Linked DNA regions of Homo sapiens: region 1 is reported to be linked to region 2. Evidence: microRNA targets listed by miRTarBase, many of them from high-throughput screens and not tested one by one. Region 2 holds a microRNA gene; the other region holds the end of a gene's coding sequence.

Region 1 (3,292 bases), not on the chromosome of region 2:
CTCTACACCTGAAGCTCTAGTTGCCTGGAAAGCCTTCTTCATTCCTCCTTCTCTACCTCAGTGTCACTATTCTTGTTTCCTGGCACTGTTCACTTAACCTTAGAATCACAGAGCTCTGAGCACTTCAGAGATCTTTCTATAGTCCTACATTTGACACGTGGAAACAGAAGCCAAAGGAGGTCAAGGGACAGCAAGTTAGCAACAAGGGTGGGCTTGAAAACAGCCAGGCCTCTGACAGCTTGATCCCAAGTTCTTTCCCTTTTCAGTCCACCATAGCAGTTTTCTCCTAACACGAGGAAACAAATACCCGTGGTCTTTCCCTTTCTCCTTTTGGGCCTTTGCTCCCCATAGACTCCTACCCAAAAGGCTGCTGCCATTTGGGAATGAAGTGTTCCGAGTTTTCAGCACATTCTCCTTCTCTGCCAGATGAAAGCCAGTCTCTGAGTCTCTGTGGCATGGTTTGGGAACACAGGAAGGGTACCGATTACCACAAGCAACCATGGCAGGCCAAGATCTCAGTCATTGTAAGCACAGAATCCCAGTAGTGGGGACTTGGGGGAGGTGAGGTCAAGGTGAAATGGGAGTAGGGGAAGGAAAAAATGGCCATAAGAGATGGTGGTTTGTGAAAGTTGAGCTTTCCCTCTCTACTGTTGTGTCCCCAGCGCCCTTCAAAGGGACACGAGAGCTGTATGGGGGCTGTGGTGTCTGAGTACTTTGTGCTGACAGCAGCACATTGTTTCACTGTGGATGACAAGGAACACTCAATCAAGGTCAGCGTAGGTAAGGATGCAACTGAAGGTCCTGGGCTGCACCTATGCTCTCCAGGCAACACCTCCCACTTTCTACAGATCCTACACTCCACCCATCCTCAATGCAGCCCCATTCCTTGCACCCCAGACCAGTCAGGGATGGGGGAAGACGTGAAGTTAGGAATGACACGGGGCCAGAGGCAGGAAGCTGCCCACAAAGAGGTGGTACCTACTCTCCTACTTCAGGAGGGGAGAAGCGGGACCTGGAGATAGAAGTAGTCCTATTTCACCCCAACTACAACATTAATGGGAAAAAAGAAGCAGGAATTCCTGAATTTTATGACTATGACGTTGCCCTGATCAAGCTCAAGAATAAGCTGAAATATGGCCAGACTATCAGGTGAGAGCGTCCAGATCCCTGAGGAAAGGCTGGGAAAGGCTGGAGGACTGGGGTGAGGAGCAGGCCTGGTTTGCTGTTCTCCTTGTCCTTTATAGGCCCATTTGTCTCCCCTGCACCGAGGGAACAACTCGAGCTTTGAGGCTTCCTCCAACTACCACTTGCCAGCAACAAAGTAAGACATACTTGGCAAGAGGATAAGGATGAGATCCCAAGAGACAAGTGGGGCATGAGAGGGAGGTGCAATAGGAAGAGATGATGCCTGGCCCAGAACCTAGCTCTAGAAGGGCTTAGGGGACATCTACTGAGTGACAAAGGCAATGGGGAGATGACAGTGGTGGGAGCAGCTGAAGTGACGCAGTCTATTCGTCCAGAGGAAGAGCTGCTCCCTGCACAGGATATCAAAGCTCTGTTTGTGTCTGAGGAGGAGAAAAAGCTGACTCGGAAGGAGGTCTACATCAAGAATGGGGATAAGGTGAGAAACGGGCATCCTAAGGAGGCACTCTAGGCCCCAATCCTTCCTAAGCCACTTCTGTTCATTACTTCTCCATGCTTCCCACCTCCCCTACAGAAAGGCAGCTGTGAGAGAGATGCTCAATATGCCCCAGGCTATGACAAAGTCAAGGACATCTCAGAGGTGGTCACCCCTCGGTTCCTTTGTACTGGAGGAGTGAGTCCCTATGCTGACCCCAATACTTGCAGAGGTGAGAGAATGCTCTTTGGTTGTGCTACAAGTGCCCAAGGCCCAACAGTCCTTTTCTCTACAGCTTCTCCTCTCCTTGCAGGTGATTCTGGCGGCCCCTTGATAGTTCACAAGAGAAGTCGTTTCATTCAAGTGAGTCCTCCCTTTCCTATCTGGGGAGATGCCAAGTGGTCAGCATGGGCCCCAAAGCAGGAAAGCTCAATGCATGTGGCTAGTAATTCGAGGTAGGCAGAGCCTGCCTCACCTTAGGACCGCATGTCTTGCCTGCGTGTGTCAAGAACGAGGCTGAGCTGGGTCCCTAGTCTGATTCCTTTAGGTCAGCTAAGACACAAGCAGGAACAGCCATGCTTCCAGGATTAGGAATTCTACTGAATGATCCATGGCACCCCACTGCCTCTGCAGGTTGGTGTAATCAGCTGGGGAGTAGTGGATGTCTGCAAAAACCAGAAGCGGCAAAAGCAGGTACCTGCTCACGCCCGAGACTTTCACATCAACCTCTTTCAAGTGCTGCCCTGGCTGAAGGAGAAACTCCAAGATGAGGATTTGGGTTTTCTATAAGGGGTTTCCTGCTGGACAGGGGCGTGGGATTGAATTAAAACAGCTGCGACAACACCTGTGTTCCAGATCCTTTTGGGGCAAGGGAGTGGGGAACAGGCACTGGCCATGTTGTTACACTGAGATCAAACCTGACAGCCGTTTTTAAAGGTTTAACCCCAATCCCAAGTGCTGAAAAACCAGAGGCTGAGGGAGATGTGTAAGCTTCCACCTCAGTGTTTTACTGAGACCAGCATTGGGGCATATGAGGCACAAGGAATCCAGCTCTGTTCCCTAGAAGCCATCCACAAGGTTTTCCTTGTAGACGTCATCACTGTAGACAATCTGGGTCCTCTTGTCCCGGTGGCAACCCTTAGGGCTGTTCTGGACAGCTAGGGAGGGAGGAGAGGAACAGTTAAGGTCTAAAGGAGATCATAGAACAGACCCTGAGGCTGACTCCTGACCACCTCACTCCTGGCCACTGGCCCCTGGAAGCCCAGTTTCCACGCTGCCCTCTGGTGGCCAGGATGGCCTGTCTTCCTTAGCTCCTTTGTGCCAACCCATGGCCAAGAAAAGTATAAGTGGACATTTTGATGAATGTTTTGTTCTTAGAAAAATCCCAAATGTCATTGTTGAGACACGTGAATGATATTAACCCACTACTTACAGTCAGTATGTCAGAAGCTAAAAACTAGAAAACCTCTGTAGCCCTTTTTTGACATGCTGGTCAATTCTAGTTCCTTTCTTTTGCCTGAAGGGCCACTGTAGCTGAGCCCTTCTTTCTGCTCACTCCTTTCCCAGGAAAATCTACTTTCAGGGAAAATGGATTATTCACACTAAGAAATGCTACTAGCTCCACCAGAACTCATTCAGGGTGTAGCTTTGGCCCTCACCATTCTCTCTCAAGCC
Region 2 (3,292 bases):
TGATATTGTTCCCAATAAACTAGTAGGGGAGAGAATGATATTACTTCTAACATTGCAGTGGCTCTTCTCCACACCCCCAACCCCGTGATATTGCTCTTAATTTCCAGCTGGTATAGTATAATGTTTCTCCCAGTATAGCAGTGGGTGTACACTCAACCTGTGATATTTCTCCGAATATTCAGGGAAAAACAGGATGATACTACTCTGAATATCGCAAAGAATGTACACTCCTTTTGTGATATTGTTCCTAATATCCAGAAGGGGAGAGGATGATATTACTTTTAATATCGCAGGCAGTGTACACCCCCCTGTGATATTGTTCGTAATATCCAGGTGAGGATAAAATGATATTACTCCCAATATTGCATGGGGTATACATTCTCCTGTGATATTGTTAGTAATATCCAGGGGAGCAGAGGTTGATATTACTGTCAGCATCGCAGGTGGTATACATTTCCCTGTGATATTTTTCGTAATATCAAGGGAAGAAGAGGTTGATATTAATCCCAATATCGCAAAGGTCATACACCCTCTGTGATATTGTTCGTAATATACGGGGGGGGGGGGAAGGATGATATTACTCTCAATATCGCAGAGGAATATACACATATCACAGAGGACCATATCACAGAGGAGGTACGCCCCCTGAGACACCCCCCTGCCATATGGTTCATAATATCCAGAGGGGGAGAGAATGATATTACTGCCAATATCGCAGGGAGTGTACACCTTCTTCTGATATTGTTTGTGATATCCATAGTGGAAGAGGATGGTATTACTCCCAATTTCGTAGGGGGTGTACACCCCCTTGTGATATTGTTAGTAATATTCAGAGGGGGAGAGGATGATATTACCCTCAATATCACAGGTTTTGTTCACCGCCCTGTTATATTGTTCATAATATCCAAGAGTAGAGATGACATAACTCCCAATGTCACATGGAATTTACCTTCTATGTGATATTGTTCATGATATCCAAGGTGGCAGATGATGTTACTTTCAATGTCGCAGGAGGTGTACACCCTAACTCATAATGTTCGTAATATCTAAGGGCGGAGATCATATTACTCCCAGAGTCGCAGGGGATGTACAACCTCTGTGATACTGTTTTTCATATCCAAGGGGGAAGATGATATTACTCCCAAGATCGTAAACACCCTGTGTATGCACTCTCTGTGATATTGTTCATAATATCCAAGGAGGGAGATGATTTTACTCCCAGTATCGCAGGGGGTGTACACCCTGTGTGAAATTGTTTCTAATATCCCAAGGGTAGATGACGCTTCTCCCAGTATCACAGAAGGTATACATCCTCTGTGATATTGTTCGTAATATCCAATGCGGGAGATGACGTTGCTCCCAGTATCGAAGGGCGTGTACCCCCTCTCTCTGTATTGTTGTTCATGATATTCAAGGGGGGAGATGACTTTACTCCCAGCATTTCAGGGGGTGTACCACCTTTTAGATGTTGTTCGTAATATCCAAGGAGGGAGATGACGTTACCCCCAGTATCGCAGAAAGTGTGCCCCCTCTGTAATATTGTTCATAATATCCCATGTGGTAGATGACGTTACTTCGAGTATTGCAGCAGGAGTACCCTGTGATATTATTTGTAATATCTAAGGGGAAAGATGACGTTACTCCCAGTATCTCAGAGAGTGTACCCTCTCTCTGATATTGTTCATAATATCCACGGGGTGAGATGACGTTACTCCCAGGATTGCAGGGGGTGTACCCCCTCTGCGATATTGTTTGTAATATCAAAGGTGGACGATGATACTACTCTCAGTGTCGCAGGTGGTGTACACCCTCTGTGATATTGTTCATAATACTCAAGGGGGGAGATGATACTACACCCAATGTCGCAGGGGGTGTACACTCTCTGTGCTATTGTTTGTACTATACAAGGGGAAAATGATACTACTCACAATGTTGCCGGAGGTGCACACCCTCTGTGATATTGTACGTATTATCTAAACGGGGAGATGACACAAATCCCAATGTCACAGTTGTTGGACACCCTCTGTGATGCTGTTCGTAATAATCAAGGGGGACGATGATACTACCCCCGATGTTGCAGGAGGTGTACAACCTCTGCGATATTGTGTGTGATACCCAAGATGGGAGATAATACTACTCCCAGTGTCGCAGGGGGTGTACACCTTCTGTGATATTGTTCGTAGCATCCAAGGGAGAGATGATACTACTTCCAATGTCGCAGGGGGTGTACACCCTCTGTGTTATTGTTCATAATATCCAAGGGGTGAGATGGTACTACTTCCAAAGTCATAGGGGATGTACTTCCTCTGTGATATTGATTTGTGATATCCAAGGGAAAAGATAATATTACTCCCAATGTCGCATTGGGTGTACACCCTCTGTGATATTGTTTGTAATATCCATGGGGGGAGATAATATTACTCCCAATGTCGCAAGGGGTGTATACCTTCTGTGTTATTGTTCATAATATTTAAGAGGGGGGAATGATATTACTCCCAATGTCCCATGGGTGTACATTCCAAGGGTGGATATAATATTACTCCCAATGCTGCAGGGGGTGTACACCCTCTCTGTTATTGTTTGTATTATCCAAGGGGGGAGATGATACTACTTCCAATGTCTCAGGGGATGTACATCCTCTGTGATATTGTTTGTACAAAATCACAGAGGATGTACACCCTTTCTGTTATTGTTCTTAATATCCAAGGGGGGAATGATGTTACAATGTCGCAGGGGGTGTACACCCTCTGTGATATTGGTCTTAATATCCAAGGTGGGAGATGATATAACTCCCAATGTCGCATGGGGTGTACACCCTCTGTGATATTGTTTGTAATATCCAAGTTGGGAGATGATATAACTGTCAATGTTGCCTGGGGTGTACACCCTTTGCGATATTTTTGGTAATATCCAAGGGGGATGATGATGTTACTCCCAGTATTGCAGGAGGTGTACCCCCTCTGTGATATTCTTCATAATATCCAAGGAGGGAGATGTCATAACACCCATTATCGCAGGGGATGTACCCCTCTATATCATTTGCAATATGCAATGGAGGAGATGACATTACTCCCAGTATCGCAGCAGGTGTACCCCCTTGTGATATTGTTCATAATATTGAAGGAAGGATATGATACTACTCCCCATATCATAACACCGTGTGTATACACTCTCTGTAATATTGTTTGTAATATCCAAGGGGGGGAGATGATACTACTTCCAATGTTACAGGGGGTGTACACCCTCTGTGATAATGTTCTTAATATCCAAGGGGGGAAATGATACTACTCCC

What was found. The annotated mature microRNA hsa-miR-3683 reads UGCGACAUUGGAAGUAGUAUCA and lies in region 2 at 2,199-2,220, opposite strand. An mRNA with a match to its seed (bases 2 to 7 or 8) in the 3' UTR can be bound and repressed. Matches are read on the target gene's strand: a 7mer-m8 pairs with bases 2 to 8, a 7mer-A1 pairs with bases 2 to 7 and ends in A, and an 8mer does both.
Region 1: the mRNA of NELFE is a reported target of hsa-miR-3683. The part of its 3' UTR that is shown has no 7-base or 8-base seed match.

What each region holds. Positions count from the first base shown.
Region 1 is chr6:31,949,624-31,952,915 of GRCh38, forward strand. It overlaps NELFE (negative elongation factor complex member E), which reads right to left. Exons shown (of 11, transcript NM_002904.6): 11 at 2,464-2,775. The coding sequence ends at 2,678. It overlaps CFB (complement factor B), which reads left to right. Exons shown (of 18, transcript NM_001710.6): 11 at 427-524; 12 at 663-780; 13 at 996-1,149; 14 at 1,245-1,321; 15 at 1,521-1,621; 16 at 1,718-1,850; 17 at 1,932-1,981; 18 at 2,252-2,461. The coding sequence ends at 2,407. Among named protein-coding and RNA genes, the nearest start is that of CFB, 5.2 kb to the left of the region's middle.
Region 2 is chr7:7,064,812-7,068,103 of GRCh38, forward strand. It overlaps MIR3683 (microRNA 3683), which reads right to left and starts at 2,234; the gene lies at 2,153-2,234. The region is part of intron 1 of LOC105375138 (a long non-coding RNA gene); the gene reads left to right.